5 linked regions of the Homo sapiens genome follow. The protein of the gene in region 2 purifies or fractionates together with the protein of the main gene of each other region. This does not show direct contact. Each region holds a gene or a part of one and is shown on either strand. Other genes may lie near its edges. The genes, in order: MRI1, TRUB1, CAPG, DDX19A and PBDC1.

Region 1 (3,518 bases), on a different chromosome or scaffold from region 2:
CCGTCTTACTCTTTGCGGGTTTGTGCGCCTGAAACTTGCGCTGCCCCTGCGCCATGGTCCGGCACGCAGCGGAAGAGGCGGGACTGTGAGCAGTCGTAGCCGGAAGGCACAGGGAACCATGGGATACAGCGGGGCGGAAAAACGCAAGAACTCACGGGATACAACGTGGCACAGAGTTAAAGAGACAGCATCCCACAAGGGTAGTGTAGTGGATCACAGTTGGAGTTTTCAAACATTACGAACAAAACGGTGACAATGATAAGCTAACGTTTATTGAGAGCTTATGTGTTTTAGAAAACTTACAACGTTTTATGATCTTTACACATAAAAACTCAGACTAGGTTAGGGTGTGGCACTCACCTCTGGTACAGAATTTAAGAAGGTTCAAAAACTTTGGTAATAGTAAACAATATTTTCAAGACTTAAAAAATATTTTAATATCCAAAATAATCAAATTGTTAAACTACATCCTGCAGACCGGCAGCATAATTTTGTAAATAAAGTTTTAGTGGAACCAGGGTGTTGAGGTCAGTAAGCTCAAGGCACAAGTGCGGGGTTCTAGCCTCTTCAAAATTTTATTTAGGCCGGGCACGGTGGCTCACGCTTGTAATCCCAGCACTTTCGGAGGCCGCGGGGCGCGGATCACCCGAGGTCAGGAGTTGGAGACCAGCCACGACTAACATGGTGTCTCCAATAAAAATACAAAAATTAGCCAGGCATAGTGCCAGGCTCCTGTAATCCCAGCTACTCGGGAGGCTGAGGCAGGAGAGTCGCTTGAACCCAGAAGGCGGAGGTTGCAGTGAGCTGAGATGGCACCACTGTACTCCAGCCTGGGCGACAGAGCGAGACCCCGTCTCAAACAAATACTTGTTTTGTTCATCATGGATTTTTTTTTTTTTTTAAAGAGATGGGGTCTCACTCTGTTGCTTAGGGTGAAGTGCAGTAGTGCAATCAAAGCACACTGCATCCTTGAACTCCTGGGCTCAAGCCATCCTCCCACTTCAGCCTGAGTAGCTGGGGCTAGAGGTGTGAGTTCCATGCCCAGCTCATTGTTTTTAAATTTTTGTTTGTAGAGACAAGCTCTTCCTATGTTACCCAAACTGGTCTCAAACACCTGGGCTCAAGGGATCCTCCCAAAGTGCTGGAATTACAGGCATGAGCCACCAAGCCTGGCCTCATCATGGATTTTTGCATTAATTTTGATTTTTAAAAAATACTGCTGTAAGGTCAGGCACAGTGGCTCATGCCTGTAGTCCCAGCACTTTGGGAGGCTGAGGCAGGGGGATCATTTGAGTCAGGAGTTCGAGACCAGCCTGGCCAACATGGTGAAATCATGTCTCTACTAAAAATAGAAAAATTAGCTGGGCATGGTGGCGCATGCCTGTAATCCCAGCTACTCAGGAGGCTGTGGCAGGAGAATCGCTTGAACCGGGGAGGCACAGGTTTCAGTGAGCTGAGATCTCGCCTCTACATTCCAGCCTGGGTAACGAGTGATACTTGATCTCAAAAAAAAAAAACCCAAAACAAAATATTGCTTTAAAATATTTTTTATCTTGGTTGCTGAGCTTTTTTGGTGTCCTCTTAAAATTCTGCCCTGGAGATGTCACCCTAGCTCCAGCCCTGACCTTAAGAGGGAGGTACTAGTATTATCCACATTTATTTTTTATTTTTTTAATTAAATAATTAATTAATTATATTTATTTTTGAGACGGAGTCTCGCTCTGTTGCCCAGGCTGGAGTGCAGTGGCGCTATCTCGGCTCACTGCAAGCTCTGCCTCCCAGTTTCACGCCATTCTCCTGCCTCAGCCTCCCAAGTAGCTGGGACTGCAGGTGCCCACCACCACACCCGGCTAATTTTTTGTATTTTTAGTAGAGATGGGGTTTCACCATGTTAGCCAGGATGGTCTCAATCTCCTGATCTTGTGATCCACCTGCCTCGGCCTCCCAAAGTGCTGGGATTACAGGTGTGAGCCACTGCGCCCGGCCTGTTATCCACATTTTATAAATGAGGAAACCAAGGCACAGAGAGGTGAAGTGACTTGCCCAAGATCATACAGTGGGAAAAGTGGCGGAGTCAGGATTTGAATCTGGGCAGCCTGGCTCTAGGTGCTGGGCTCTAGATGGAAGGCCCTGTCTGAGCTCCCTGCACTAGGAACAAGTGTGGTCAGGGGCTGGACGGTCAGCTTTTGGGTAGCCATTCAAGAAATGTATTGAAAAACCTAGAGAGGCAGGCTAGGGAGAGCTGAGTTGGTTACATCTGGGGTCCATCTAGGGTTCCATCCCTGGAAGAGATGGTGGTGGTTAGGGCTGTCCGGAGCTCCTCAGGGGCAAAGACCCCCAGTTCTGTGATGATGCCACCAGTGATGAGGTCGTGGGGGGTGACATCGAAGGCAGGATTCCAAACTCCAATCCCTGCAGGGGAGAGAGGGGAGGCAAGGAGGCAAGAATTTGCTTCTGTGAAAGTTCTCAGGTTGTAGTCATCTGTTTCTACCACAGTGGTTCTTGGAGTTGGGGAGTCCTTGAGAACCTGAGGATTCTCACCCCAAAAGTACATGCAGGCATGGACATTGTACTCAATAGTAAGTTTAGACTCGCCACTGCCCCTAGAATGTCAGTCCCCAAGAAAAATTCAAAGTCCTATACACATCTATGCCACTTATTTTTTTATTTTTTGTGAGATGTAGTTTTGCTCTTGTTGCCCAGGCTGGAGTGCAATGGCACGATCTTGGTTCACTGCAACCTCCACCTCCCAGGTTTCAAGCAATTCTCCTGCCTCAGCCTCCCGAGTAGCTGGGATTACAGGCATGCACCACCATGCCCAGCCAGTATTTTTAGTAGAGACGAGGTTTTTCCATGTTGGTCAGGCTGGTCTCAAACTCCCGACCTCAGGTGATCTGCCCGCCTCGGCCTCCCAAAGTGCTGGGATTACAGGCGTGAGCCACCGCACCTGGCCCATCCCACTTATTTTTTTAGTTTTATTTTTAATTATTATTATTATTTTTGACACAGAGTCTCGTTGTGTCACCCAGGCTGTAGTACAGTGGTGCGATCTTGGCTCAGTGTAACCTCTGCCTCTTGGATTCAAACGATTCTCCTGCTGCAGCCTCCTGAGCAGCTGGGACCACAGATGTGCACCATCATGTCTAGCTGTTTTTTTGTTTTTTTGAGATGGAGTTTTGCTCTTGTCACCTAGGCTGGAGTGCAGTGACATGATCTCAACTCACTGCAACCTGTGCCTCCCAGGTTCAAGCGATTCTCCTGCCTCAGCCTCCCAAGTAGTTGGGATTACAGGCGCCTGCCACCTCGCCCAGCTAACGTTTTTTTTTTTTGTATTTTTAGTAGAGACGGGGTTTCACCACATTGGCCAGGCTGGTCTCGAACCCCTGACCTCAGGTGATCCGCCCGCCTCAGCCTCCCAAAGTGCTGGGGTTACAATCATGAACCACCACACCTGGCAAAACAATTTTTTTAGAGATTGTGGTCTGGCAATGTTGCCCAGGCTGGTCTTGAACTCCTGA
Region 2 (3,518 bases):
AAAACCCCGTTATTCATCTGCTCTCTAAATTCTCCACACCTTTTCAAATGTGGTGCCTTTGCTCATGTTTTTCTTTTATAAGCTGCTCATCTCTCTCAGCACCTTTGGTTGTAGAAGTCCTACTGACCTTTCCAGGTTCAGCTGAAATGCCATTTCCTACCTTTGAAGCCTGCCTGCTGCTCTTCTATACTGCTAATGTAAAATTTCATTTTGTTCTTTTAGTTTTTGTTAATATCTGTCTCCCTATTATATTGTTAAATCACAGCTGAAGCCAGGTCTTATTTATTTCTGTACCTACACAATAAGTACTGGATACAATTTTGAATGATTGAAGGGAAAAAATGCCGAGTAAAAATTCTGTCCGGGAAACTAACCTGTGAATGAAAAGCTGCTGGTTGGCTAGGTCCCAACTCCAGATAATTTTTCTATATGCCACCACCATATTAGTCTTCCTAAAATTCTGCTTTCACTAATCACCTCACTTCAATGGCATTTGGTTATTCTTAGGTTAAAATGAGAGGATTAAGCTGGGTAACTCTAAGATGGCTTCTTTTAAATTTTATCCTTCTGGGTCACTAAACTAGCTCAGAAACCATCATGAGTTCAGTATTTCAGCCATGTTAAAGTCAAACATGTCAGTCTGCTTCTAAGACACCCTGTGTTCAGTTGATAAACCTACTGTTCTCATCCTTGTATCTGAGAGTTTGTGCAATTATTTTCTTTTTTAGAACATGCTTCTCTTCTCTCTGTTGTGTTCCCTATACATCCTTCAAAGGCCTAATACAAACTCCGAAATGCTTGAATGAAGCATTCTCCGGCCTCTTTAGCCGTTTAGGATGCTCCCACCTTTGCCCTGCTTTGGCAGCGGTTCTCTCTCTGTTCATTTGACACTTAATCATATACTATCATATTGTTATTTAGCATTATTCACTCATTAGGCAACATTTCTTGAGCACTGTGATTTTTCTGTATTTTATTTTCCTGATGAGATTATAAGCTGTTTCAGAGTTAGGAAATGTGTCACAGGTTTCTTTGTTTTTCCATTGGAAGTATTCCTCTTGGGATTATGTGCATAGTAGTTGTTCAAGAAAAATTGATTGGAGATTTATTTGAATGGAATCAAGTCGCATTGAATCTTTCCTGTTTGCCTCATCAGCAGCAGTATCTACAAGTTCTGTCATTTGAAGAGTATTATGCTCTTCAGAGGATTACTGAGGACAGACTGTTTTTGATCTTAGACCTTGAACTATATGACTTAGAAGGACAATACAGATGAGTGTCATAGAGGTTTTGAGGAGGTTGGAATAGACTTTATGAATGAGTTGGGGCTTGAGCTGGGCTTCAAAGGATTGACTTTGAATACTTTAATAAGGAGTTGGTGCTGTAGGCACTGGGACCCTACTAAGGATTGTTTGGGGGGCTTTGTAATGTGAAAAATAGGGTTTCAGAAATGGTTATGAAGTGGTATGAATTGGAAGAGGAAGGGATAGGATGTAGAACCGTCAGGTTTGCAGGGATGTAGGCTGGTTGCAGTGAGGAGAAAGCCTAGGTGAGTTAAGGTGGCAGAGGGAATGGAAAGGAAGGGGGGTCTGTTCTTAGACCATTTGGTTTGAATCTTAACTCTACCAGGTACTGGTTGTGAGATGCTGGACAAAGTTCTTAGTCTCTTATTCCTGTTTCCTCATCTATCAACAGGGGTAATTATACTATCTTTTAAAGTTTTTTTTTTTTTTTTTTTGAGACAGAGTTTTGCTCTTGTCACCCAGGCTGGAGTGCAATGGTGTGATCTTGGCTCACCGCAACCTCTGCCTCTTGGGTTCAAGCGATTCTCCTGCCTTAGCCTCCCAAGTAGCTGGGATTACAGGCATGCGCCACCATACCTGGCTAATTTTGTATTTTTAGTAGAGACGGGGTTTCTCCATGTTGGTCAGGTGGGTCTTGAACTCGTGACCTCAGGTGATCCGCCCGCCTCAACCTCCCAAAATGCTGGGATTACAGGCGTGAGCCAACACACCTGGCCTTTTAAAGTTGTTATAAGGATTAAATGGGATAATGAAAGGAGAGCATTTAGAGTAGAATCTGATACATGGTAAACTCACTGAATGGTATTTGCTGTAAATATTGGAGATATTTTTTCTAGTTTGCCAATCAGTAGTCCTTGTTTACTCTTATAATTCTGAATTGTGGTGATTGTATTGTGTTCTTATGCACAGTTATATCTGTTGATGACAAATATTTCTATACTTACAAAAATGTGGCTTCTTAACAAAAAGAGAAGTGACTAAATCCTCTCACCCTCACCAAGTGAAATGTGTTGACGTATGAATAATGTTTGAAATTTAAGAGAAAGGTAGGCCATTGTTGTACTTTGGGCTCTGTAAATACATTCTTCAGCCTTCATTTTACCTTGTATTCTTTGTGTTAGACTGATTTGTTATGTTTCTCTTTTCTTGATTGTATATACTGCTGGGTGCTAATCATCTTTAAATGGTTCATTAGCTGTGATAATGGCTTTTGCTTTGTTTAATAATGAATTCTGTCAAAAGACTTTATCATACCCACTTGAACATGGTTAATTGTGCCGTGTGTTTTTCACTGGTGCCCATATAAAATTCCAGTGCGTCCTTTGAGATTGTTCTAAGGCTTCATTGTCTAATTGGCTGGGTTAAGGTTTCTACTGAGTTTAATACTTTGAGAATGGGGAGAAAGGTCTTCTCTTGTCCCTTCTTTAGAATTTCTTAGTTGCATGACAAGTTCAACTGTTTGGAGTAATAGGAGCCCTAACATTTTGCTAAATATCTGTTCTTTCCCACTTCACATTACCTAAGCTGGGAAATTATGACCAAAAAATATAGCTATTTTAAAAACCTAGTTTTCAGAACAGAGTGTCATAATATTTCTTTCTTTGATTTGTAGTTGTTGGAATTGGAAGCGGAACAAAAATGTTGACCAGTATGTTGTCAGGGTCCAAGGTAAGAATACTGAAATAGTTCTATTTTTCTTTAATGTTCTTAATGATCTACATGTATTGGGTTTTTATCAAATAAAAAATAAACTGAGTAAACTGCATGAATGGGTATCATTCCTGAGTATTAATTATGTCTATAAACATATCTGAGATTGAAAATATCGAGACTGAAAATTGGAAATTCTTAATTGAAAAACCAATTAGACTTAAAGAAACAATGCTACAGTGCTCATCATTTAACAAAATTATATTTAGACTTTTAAAACATCATATTTCTTAGATGATTGGGACTTAGAGGTCATAAACTCTAGTGACAGACTTTTTTAAACCTTGGAATTTTTATAGAAACAATACCATTTTGTAAACTGTGCCCTTTGAGCAAAAATATGCTTTGTTCAATGGTTATAAATGTTTATTAAAGAAAAGAGTAGGGCCTCTTTAAGATGATAAAGTATGTTCATATATGAGAGTAACCTTGAATAGATCCAAAAGCACTTTTCCAGGCACTTGATAGAAGAGAGAAGGGGTTATTTGGAGGCAGGAGAGGCTG
Region 3 (3,518 bases), on a different chromosome or scaffold from region 2:
TCACCCAGGCTGGAGTACAATGGCATGGGCTTAGCTCACTGCAGCCTCTGCCTCTTGGGTTCAAGCAATTTTCCCGCCTCAGCCTCCTGAGTAGCTGGGACTATAGGCACGTGCCACCACACCCAGCAAATTTTTGTATTTTTAGTAGAGATAGGGTTTCACCATGTTGGCCAGGCTGGTCTCGAACTCCTGACCTCATGATCCACCCACCTTGGCCTCCCAAAGTGCTGGGATTACAGGCGTGAGCCACCGTGTCCAGCCAAATTGTGTTAATTTTTGTATGTGTATGTTCATGAGAGATACTGATCTGTAATTTTCTTTTTGCATAATATATTTATCTGGTTTTGTTATCAGGAGAATGTTGGCAGCATAGGATGAATTGAGAAGTGTTCTGTCATCTCTTTTTTTGAAGATTTTGTGTACAATTGGTATTATGTCCTTTTTAAATTTTTGGTAGAAATTACCAGGGAAGCCATCTGGGCTTGGGTTTTTTGGCGGGGGAACGAGTTTTTTACTACAAATTTATTTTCTTTAATAGATATGGCCACTGTTCAGATAATCTGTGTCTTCTTGAATGAGCTTTCATAATTTGTGTCTTTGAAGGAATTTGCCCATTTTATATAAGTGGTTGAATATATTGGCATAAAGTTTTTATAATATTCCCTTTATCCTTTTAATATCTGTAAAATCTATGGTGATCTCACATCTCTCATTTCTGTATTGATATTTGTGTTTTCTCTTTCTGTTAATCAGTTTGTCTAAAGATTTATCAATTTTATCGGTTTAAAAAAACAACTTGCCAGGCACGGTGGCTCACGCCTGTAATACCAACACTTTGGGAGGCTGAGGCGCGTGAATCACCTGAGGTCAGGAGTTTAAGACCAGCCTGGCCAACATGGTGAAACCCTGTCTCTACTAAAAATACAAAAATTAGCCAGGCGTGGTGGTGTGGGCCTGTAATCCCAGCTACTTGGGAAGCTGAGGCACAAGAATCACTTGAACTCATGAGGCAGAGGTCGCAGTGAGCTGAGATCACGCCACTGCACTCCAGCCTGAGTGACAGAGTGAGACTCTGTCTCCAAAAAAAAAAAAGCCAACTTGAGGCCAGGCATGGTGGCTCATGCCTATACTCTCGGCACTTTGGGAGGCTGAGATGGGCAAATCACTTGAGGTTAGGAGTTCAACACCAGCCTGGGCAACATGGCAAAACCCCATCTCTACTAAAAATACAAAAATTAGCCAGGTGTGATGGTGTTGCCTGTAATCCCAGCTGCTTGGGTGGCTGAGACCGGAGGATTACTTGAACCCGGGAGGCGGAGGTTGCAGTGAGGCGAGATCGCACCACTGCACTCCAGCCTGGGCAACAGAGTGAGACTCAGTCTCAAAAAAAAAATTCATTGCTCTTCTCTCTTGTTTCTGTTTTCTGTTAATTTCTGCTTTTATTTTAATTTCTGTGAGATCTCAGCAGACGGAAGACCCTGGCCCAGGGGTCAGAGACCTTATTTCCATGAACCACTCACTAGCTGTGTGGCCTTGGACTCATTTCTGAGACTCATTTTCTTTGTCTGCATAATGGAACTAGGGCTCCTAGAGGTGGAGTAGTTGATGAATATGAAAGTACTTGGCCACTGGAAAGGGCCTCTCCAGCCCCACGTGAGAGGTCCTTTTTGTGGCATTTGTAATAATAATGGCTTCTTCTTTCTTTCCAGATCTGAAGACAGCATGTACACAGCCATTCCCCAGAGGTAAGCTGCATGCCCCATCTCCTTTCACAACTTCCCCTTCTTTACCTCCAAGGGCTGCCCCTCCCCACTGCTCTCCTCATCCCCAGACTGCAGTCGCCAGGCCTGCCCAGGGCTGTGCTTGGGCAAGTGGGTCCAGGCTGCTGTCAACCCTCTCTCTTCTCGCAGTGGCTCTCCATTCCCAGGCTCAGTGCAGGATCCAGGCCTGCATGTGTGGCGGGTGGAGAAGCTGAAGCCGGTGCCTGTGGCGCAAGAGAACCAGGGCGTCTTCTTCTCGGGGGACTCCTACCTAGTGCTGCACAATGGCCCAGAAGAGGTTTCCCATCTGCACCTGTGGATAGGTAAGGGGATCTGGATGGGGGAAGGTTGGGCCCAGGAAGGGGAGGGAGGGGGCTGGTATGGATCACAAGGGCCTTGCCCTGCCCTCTCCCACTTGTCCCAGGCCAGCAGTCATCCCGGGATGAGCAGGGGGCCTGTGCCGTGCTGGCTGTGCACCTCAACACGCTGCTGGGAGAGCGGCCTGTGCAGCACCGCGAGGTGCAGGGCAATGAGTCTGACCTCTTCATGAGCTACTTCCCACGGGGCCTCAAGTACCAGGTCAGAGCCCACCTCTAGGCACCCCCACCCTGCAGCTTCCCTCAGAGCCAGCCCTGCTTCTGGCTGGTTCTCACCCTGCAGAAGACCCGGGTGCCTTTGGAGCCGGGTCCCCACCTTTCTGCCCGTCTTCCAGTGGGATGGGGTGCAGAGGGCTCTGGGTCTCCTGTCAGTCCACTCAGATGGGCCGTCTGGGCTGCAGGAAGGTGGTGTGGAGTCAGCATTTCACAAGACCTCCACAGGAGCCCCAGCTGCCATCAAGAAACTCTACCAGGTGAAGGGGAAGAAGAACATCCGTGCCACCGAGCGGGCACTGAACTGGGACAGCTTCAACACTGGGGACTGCTTCATCCTGGACCTGGGCCAGGTGGGTAGGCTGGCCAGACTGAGCACTCCGTATTGGCACCATCCTTTATAAGGACGGAGGGGCAGGAGGCCAGGAAAGAGGGAGAGAAGCTGAGAAGCCGTAAACCCATTCCAAGTGAGATCACTCTGACCATTGGAGAATGTCCCTATATTTGTAAGGACTGATGCCAGCCTCCTTCTGCCATCTAGACATTGCCTCTGATGCTCTGGAGCTTTTTCCCTCCTCTTGGAAGCCTCTGAGTTCACTGCCTGCCAGACCATTCATTAATTCAGTCATTTATCTCTTCGTTCAGTGAATCTATGATGCTCTCTCTGAGCCAGCACAGGGACCATAAAAGCTCGCTCTGGGGAGGCAGCCAAGATGGGCCAGTCACTTGCCATAACCTGAGGCAGGATGTGATGAGGGCTTTAAGGGGGACAGCTGCCATGTGCTGGGGGGGTCTTGGGGCAGGGAGGGGCCCTCTAGCCTGAGCCGAAGCCAGTTGTCCCAGGAAGGTGACATTGGACTAGACCTATAGGAGGGGAGATGCCACTCCAGGCAAAGGGAGAAGGTGAGCTGAGCCACCAAGGTGGGGAAGGGTGCAGACATGCACACACCAGGGGTCTAGTGAGACTGGGACCCGGGCTGGGGGACAGGAGCAGGGGGAGGGAAATTCCTAAGCAAGGTGGAAGGTGAGCCCTAGGTCATGAGGAGATTGGCTGGCTGAGGAGTATGGGCTGCGTCTTGTGGCGCTGAAGATTTGGGGCAGGGAGATCAATCCAGGAGCTCTTGGTGAGGACTACACGTGCTGAGACAAGGAAGGGGACAGGTGAACA
Region 4 (2,999 bases), on a different chromosome or scaffold from region 2:
GCATGCTGGCATGTGCCTGTAATCCCAGCTACTTGGGAGGCTGAGGCAAGAGAACTGCTTGAAGCTGGGAGGCAGAGGTTGCAGTGGGCCGAGATCACGCCTCTGTACTCCGGGCCAGAGTGACACTCTGTCTCAAAAAAAGAAAAAAAAAATGTTCATTGTGGTACTGTGGATAACAGCCATGTACTAGAAATCCCCCATGCCTGTCACTAGAGGAACCAGGAGATAAATGCCGGGACAGCTACACGCAGAAAGGAAGGTGGATGGTGTTTCCAGGGCAAGGAAGATGTGTGTGTATTGGACATGTCAACATGTCTAACACATGCTGATCAGTGAAAGCAGGTTGCATAGTAGTGTGAACAGAATGTTCCTGTTTTTGTAAAAGAAAAATGGGTTTATGCAAATAAAAGGCAATATGGTAGAATATTCACCAAGCTGCCAGGAATCAGGATCCCAGAAGAGAAGGGATAGAGAGCACTCTCACTTTATATACACACACGCCTTTTTAAAATGAGTATATATTTGTCTAATAAGCAGAAAAATACAAATAAAAACAAATCATTAGTAGAGCGTTTCTCATAATTACTTTAAAATGTCTTAGCATAATGAATGGTGCATACGCTACAATTTATCCATCCTTATTTATTTATTGAGTCGGGGTCTCGCTCTGTTACCCAGGCTGGAGTGCAGTGGCGCCATTTCAGCTCACAGCAGCCTCTACCCAGGCTCAAGCGATCCTCCTACCTCAGCCTCCCGAGTAGCTGGGACTACAGGCGTGCGCCACCAGGCCCGGCTATATTTTTTTCTATTTTTGGTAGAGACGGGGTTTCATCATGTTGGCCAGGCTGGTCCCGAACGCCTGAGCTCAACCGATCCGCCCGCCTCAGCCTCCCAACGTGCTGGGATTATAGGCATGAGCCACCACGCCCGGCCTATCCATCCTTATTCATATTATGTAGGAATCAGAGCTCTCCATAATGTCCACTATTATAAATGAACAGCATAATTCCCTTGGTCATAACTTCCATTCCAAATTCTTGCTCAGCTCTCGGCCCCGTGTGACACCTGGGGGTAAGAACCAACTACGTATGCGCTCAGAAACTCACCTGGGGTCTCCTGGCTGCCGTGACTGAGTACCAGGGGCCTAGGCAGAGGGAGCAACCGAGAGAAGAGAAGGCAAGACCAGGCCCAGCCCCTTCATCGGCCCTCGCCAGATCACTCTCTCTCAAGGGGTCAGGATTCAGACTTTCGTGTTTCTCTCCAAATCTGAAGTTTACAAAAGTAGCCGAGCTGCTCATCAGGGATATGCAAGTCTGCTTTCTGCAGCAGAGAACAGAAGTGAAAGGGAGAAGGGATGAGCAAGAAAGTCTCTGGATTTCAGGAGAAGGAAGACAGCCCCAAGGGCAGGAGAAACACTTGTGAAGGGTCCATTGAAGAGACAGAGAGGGGGCAGCTCTGGCCTCTCTGCTGCCACTTCCCTCATTCGATGCACAGCGGTGGGGCTCACACCATTTTCCACTCAGCCTCTTCCGCACAACCTGCACATCTATCGTTTCTTCAGGGGCTGGAGCTGGTTCCACGATGCCTAGCCAAAATCAGGAGGGGGTCCTGGGGCCAGCGACTACCACTGTGACCAGATTATTATAAAGATGGGGGAATGTGGCTTTAAAAAAGTGGGGAAAGGACCCAATTTTCCAAAATGCAAATTTTTTCTTCTATTGCCCCCCATCATTTGCACCTATTTTTGTCAAGTCCAAACATAATTTGAAGTGAGGTAGGTAGTTTCTCTCTACTTCTGCCGTTGTCCTTGGGGTGATGTCGGGGCCTGTGCCCTAAATGCACTTGTCTCCTGTGCAGGGGCAGTGCCAGGGCTGGCATCAGTGGCTGGTGGAGCTTCTCAGTTGGCTATTTTCTCAATCTCGTCCAAATCATCTGTGTCCAATCTTTCTATCTTCTTATCTGGGGGAAAGATACACAAGTCTCTACCCTGCCCAGGAATGTGCCCCACCTCAGGCCACAGCAATCATTCATTCAGGCCCAAAGGCTCCGGGTGCCTAAGCAGGGGGCAGCAGGGCCCCTAGTCACTGACAGCAACAGTCAGAGCCCCACGCCCCGAAGCCCAGTCACAGGGGAGCTGTCCTTGGAGTCCCTGGGTCCTGAAGTCTCCAGGTGTGCTCCCTGAGAACTGCCATATGGTCAGAAAGGAGGGGAGTGTGCTAGGGACAGAGCCTCTCTTGGGGCTACAGAAGATCCTACCCCTTTCACCACCCCGCCCTACTTAGCAAAGGGCGCCAGGCACAGGACCCTCCCCGGGACTCACTAAAATGCTCCTGGATTCTGTTCAGGATGTTCATGCTGTGCTTGCTGTCCACCATGTTCACTGCCAGGCCCCTCTTGCCAAAGCGGCCCGTGCGCCCGATCCGGTGCAGGTAGGTCTCATTGTCAGGATTCCCGTCCTTGTCCACGGGAAGATCAAAGTTGATGACGACAGACACTTGTTCAACATCAATGCCTGCAGGAAGGAGAGTTGGAGGCTGAGAGGACTAAGGACAGGAGACAGAAATCACTGTCATCCATAGGTAGGTCAATGCGTACCAACTTTGGGATAGAGGGAAAGAATTTGGGACAGGCCAACTCTGGGTACAAGAGAGGGCACACATATAGGCAGGCAACAGAACCCAGAGGAAAAGAAGAGAACTTTGGCAAGTGCCAACAAAATCATGAGATCAGTCGGTAATCCTCTGGGAGACACAATGTTCTGGAGATGGGCGCCCCTGGAAGAGTAGGCTCCGTTCTCTACCAGTCAGATGCCTGTACATTTCCTTCCACCAAGTCAGGACTACTGGTTTCTGCGGGAGTTCCTTTTCTTTCTTTCTTTTTTTATTTTTGAGACGGAGTTTCGCTCTTGTTGCCCAGGCTGGAGTGCAATGGCGCGATCTCACTCACCGTAACCTCCACCTCCCGGGTTCAAGCGATTCTCCTGTCTCAGCCTCCTGAGT
Region 5 (4,017 bases), on a different chromosome or scaffold from region 2:
TCCATCCTCCTCTGAAAGGGCTGATGGGTGGAGATTTAAAATGTCCAAGACAAAAAGGAGAAAAAAATAGACTCAACAACATGAAAAGTCCATAAACTGGAAAAACATTCATTTCCTAACTTAGTTGATTACAACTAGAAAAGAAGTTCTGGTTCTTTACATATTTTTCTCAAACAAAAAAAGAGCTTAAATGTAAAAAAACATTCGCAATCAAAAATTGTTGGTTAAATGCTAAGTAATATTTAAGAAAGAGAATTTTTACCTCTTTGGCTGATTCTGACTTGAGTTCTTCTGGGTCCAACACATCTATCCTAAGGGTCTCAAAATTTTTCCGGAACTCAGAGTAAATTTGGTCATCTACTTTGGTGAGTTTCAGGAACTGTGGGTCAACTGATGAAATCAGCTGCGAAACAGTAAGACAACATACAGATGCTAGTCTGTAATTTACTATACTTCTATCTTCCCCATCCCCACCAGAAAACCTTTATGGTTCTCAGGGCAGAAGATCTCTTCAGGAAGTGTCGACAGTCTACATCCTAGATGAAATCATGACACAGTTTAAGGCCATAATATATTATTACAATCCCTTCCACCAATTTGGCAGTTGGCTTACTTAACCACAGTACTGCCTGGCTATTGCCCTCCGTGGATTGTTCATTCATTCAACAAACATTTATTAAGTGCCTACTATGTATGGGCCAGACGCCCTTTTGTCAGTTAGCATTATAACGCTGGGCAAAGCAGCAGAACTCATTGTAGAAACAAATTTGCCTTCGCTCCTCTGTTGTCTGTGGGTAAGAACTTACATTAATAAAAACGATCTCCAAAACACAACTGTTTAACTTGCTGAGAATAGTGATAAGCAGAGCATCATACACTATAATTACATGTTTAATTCTGCTTAATGATGAAGAAAGACAACTCACCTTGTAATAGACTTCAGCATGCTGCATTGCTCTCATGGCCCAAGCCATCTCAATGTCAGGCTGCAAAGGAGTGAAGAATGCCAGGTCATAAATCTCCCCATCCTACTACTGAATAGCAAATTAAGGAAGTATGTGGATGTCTAGTTAATGCTCAAGAGGGCTACCAAACTTGATGTTACTGTCAAATGATAAAAACTGGAGTAATAAATTTGGACAATAATTATTTTGTCTGTATGACAACCAAAAAAAGCTACCTACACAGTATAATGAACACAATGAGCCACCGGCTATCTTTTCCCAGCTGCTAGTGAAAGCTGGGAGACTAAATAAAGCAGGAGATAAATCACCTTCTCAGGATTGAGTTAAATCATTGTAAAACTGAAATAATATACCCATCAATTCCACTGAGTTGTTGGGAGAACAAAGAATCAAAATGAAAATTACTTTTCACTTTTAAGACTGAAGCATGTCATAATCATTTTTGTTTACCAAACAGCCAATTCCCCATACTGTAACACCTAGAAATGAATTAGCACATGAAACAGGTCAAGGTTATAATAAGTCTTACCAAGCACCCCACTGGAGGTTCCACTGGAATCTCCCATTCCAACGAGACCGAGCTATTTCACTGACTCCAGAAAAAGCCATTTGCATTTGTTACCTCCATGCCTTAGACCATGCACTTTTCCCACGTGCCAATCCATGTCCTTTGTCCACCTACACTTTGAGGATACAGGTAAAGCTCCATTTCCTCAGTCAAGTCTTCCACTGCCTTGGCCCCTTAGGGATTTCTCCTTCAGCTAAATTATTTGGATCTTATGGCCTGACCCACTCATTATATGTATCACACTCTTATTTGGGTGTTTTTACTATTCTCACATCCTCTTGTCTTGTTTTGGAAAATACCTCATATACTTTCTCAGTAATTTTCTAAACCAGACACACCATAAGCTGCACAATGGAATCCCTCAGAGACCCTTTAAAAATACTGATTCTTGGCTCTCATTACCCAGACATTCTGATTTAGGTGGTATGAACTGCAATCTAGGCAGCGGGATGTTTAAAAGCTCCCCAGTAATTCTAAAGCGTGGCCAACTTGGGGAACCACTTCCACAGGCGTTAGTCCTGCGTTTGTGGACCAAGATTAAAACGAACTGAACGAAGGTGCAGTTTCTGGTGTAAGTGGAGAGGGTCTGCAGTAGATTATCAGGACGTGAAGTTATAACTTAGTGGCAGGCAGGTCCTGCAGAGATCCCAGGCTAGCTGAGTGGGTGGGAGCTGTGGGTGAGTCATACTCACATCGTTGCCATACGACTCTGCTGGGAGAGAAAGCGCATGTGCCACAGACACCAACTCCCCGGAAACCTAGAAAGGAGGAAAAAGAGTTCAAGGCTCCCCCCAAGGCCGGGCGCGGTGGCTCCCCCCAAGGCCAGTCGCAGTGACTCGTGCCTGTAATCCCAGCACTTTGGGAGGCCGAGGCGGGCGGATCGCCTGAGCCCAGGAGTTTGAGACCAGCCTGGGCAACATGGCGAAACCCCGTCTCTACAAAAAATACAAAAAATGTAGCTGGGCGTGGTGGCACGGGCCTGTAGTCCCAGCTCCTCGGGAGGATGAGGTGGGCGGAAGATCTGAGCGCTGGAGGTCGAGGCTGCAGTAAGCGGTGATCCCACCACTGCACTCCAGCCTGGGCGACTGAGTGACACCTTGTCTCAAAAAAGAAAAAAAAAAGGCTCCACCTGGCTCGACCTCCCCACTCACCCGACCCCAGAACAGCGTCTCACCGGCTCATCAGTTCCACTGGTGGCCGCCATCTTGCAACCCCCGAAAGCGTGGCTCCTTCCGCAGCTGATTGGAAAGCTGAGCCGGATCAGAGTCCTTCTCAACTGGCGGCTCCACCGTGCGCTCTCCCTCCAGCTGAGGAAGTTGCTGGCCCCGCCTTACCCTCCCCGCACAGGCGCAGAGGTGGAGTACTGTTGCGTAGGCTGGACTGCTTGAGAGATCTGAGGTGATTGACTCGTCAGTAATTTTCGGTGGTGATCACGGGAAAAGGTTGTGTTAAAATAGTGCCCCTTTCTTGTCTTCACTGCGCCGTGTGCCCAGCAAAAATTCAAATTTACTCTCCATTCATATGCGCATATACGCACATGCGCATACACATACACACCAGTACCCCAAACCAGGGAGTGATTCACGAAAATGCATGGTGCTAGGGCGCAGAGTGCAGGAATGAAGAATTTAGTCCCTGCCTTGGAACAACTAGATATAGTGAGGGACCGGATACAGTAGTGCTCACAGCATAGCATCGGATGATGTGGGAGCATGAATGGGGGATACCTAAGCTGAATCATGAAGGGGAGCTTAGCCAAGCAGACAGGGAAAGACAGTCCAGGCAGAGGGAATAGCACAAACAAAGCCATTAGTGGCACCTTGCTGGGAATTACAAAAGCAGTATAGCTGAATCCAAAGTGGAGTCATCTATAATCATTTGAGGGAGCACAGGGCCTTTGGTATGCTGAATGTTAAAGAGTAGAGAGTTTACCCTTAGAGCAACAGTAAGCTACTGAAGATTTTTAAGTAGGCCAGCTTCATGGTCAGATTTAACTTTTATGATCACTCTAACACAACATAGAAGATTAATTTGAGGAAGACAAAATTGGAGACAGAGACACCAGTTTGAAGGCAGTGGGTGATGAAAATCTAAACTAAAGCAGTGGCAGTTGAGATGAATTTTGAGAATTAATGGGGCTTAGAATCAATAGAACTTTTTGACTAATTTCATGTAGAGGATAAAGGGGAATTTGGATTCTAGTATGACTCCCAGATTTCAGAATAGGATTTGGGCATAAATATCGTTGAGCAAGGGAACACAGAGGAGAAATGATGAGTTTAATTTGAGAAGTTAAGTTATAAGAGCCTATGGGTCATTCAGATAGAATTGACCAGGCAGAGGGAGATCTGATCAGAGATAAATTTGATAGTTGGTACTTCAGGTTTAGTTGAGCTTTCATAAGAAATCTCTAAAGTACTGTAAAGACATAAAAAGCAGCAGGTCAAGCATTTATGAAGGAAAAAAGGCAGCAAAAAAAAAAAG

Evidence for each region.
Region 1: the proteins of TRUB1 (region 2) and MRI1 fractionate together in Homo sapiens (co-fractionation; one large-scale study listed by BioGRID). This does not show direct contact.
Region 3: the proteins of TRUB1 (region 2) and CAPG purify together in Homo sapiens (affinity purification with mass spectrometry; one large-scale study listed by BioGRID and IntAct). This does not show direct contact.
Region 4: the proteins of TRUB1 (region 2) and DDX19A fractionate together in Homo sapiens (co-fractionation; one large-scale study listed by BioGRID). This does not show direct contact.
Region 5: the proteins of TRUB1 (region 2) and PBDC1 fractionate together in Homo sapiens (co-fractionation; one large-scale study listed by BioGRID). This does not show direct contact.

What each region holds. Positions count from the first base shown.
Region 1 is NC_000019.10:13,771,015-13,774,532, reverse strand, and holds the end of MRI1 (methylthioribose-1-phosphate isomerase), read right to left. Parts: exon of another isoform or gene 2,651-3,518; intron 2,413-2,650; coding exon 2,252-2,412; 3' UTR 251-2,251; downstream 1-250. Other genes in the region: C19orf53 (leydig cell tumor 10 kDa protein homolog), read right to left, coding at 1-55.
Region 2 is NC_000010.11:114,948,178-114,951,695, forward strand, and holds part of TRUB1 (pseudouridylate synthase TRUB1), read left to right. Parts: intron 1-2,916; coding exon 2,917-2,972; intron 2,973-3,518. UniProt on the Homo sapiens protein: Pseudouridine synthase that catalyzes pseudouridylation of mRNAs and tRNAs. Mediates pseudouridylation of mRNAs with the consensus sequence 5'-GUUCNANNC-3', harboring a stem-loop structure. Constitutes the major pseudouridine synthase acting on mRNAs.
Region 3 is NC_000002.12:85,400,350-85,403,867, reverse strand, and holds part of CAPG (macrophage-capping protein), read left to right. Parts: intron 1-1,709; 5' UTR 1,710-1,722; coding exon 1,723-1,745; intron 1,746-1,910; coding exon 1,911-2,083; intron 2,084-2,184; coding exon 2,185-2,339; intron 2,340-2,538; coding exon 2,539-2,703; intron 2,704-3,518. UniProt on the Homo sapiens protein: Calcium-sensitive protein which reversibly blocks the barbed ends of actin filaments but does not sever preformed actin filaments. May play an important role in macrophage function.
Region 4 is NC_000016.10:70,370,885-70,373,883, reverse strand, and holds the end of DDX19A (ATP-dependent RNA helicase DDX19A), read right to left. Parts: intron 2,513-2,999; coding exon 2,321-2,512; intron 1,960-2,320; coding exon 1,898-1,959; 3' UTR 501-1,897; downstream 1-500. UniProt on the Homo sapiens protein: ATP-dependent RNA helicase involved in mRNA export from the nucleus.
Region 5 is NC_000023.11:76,171,859-76,175,875, reverse strand, and holds the start of PBDC1 (protein PBDC1), read right to left. Parts: upstream 2,815-4,017; 5' UTR 2,738-2,814; coding exon 2,708-2,737; intron 2,292-2,707; coding exon 2,226-2,291; intron 987-2,225; coding exon 927-986; intron 404-926; coding exon 263-403; intron 1-262.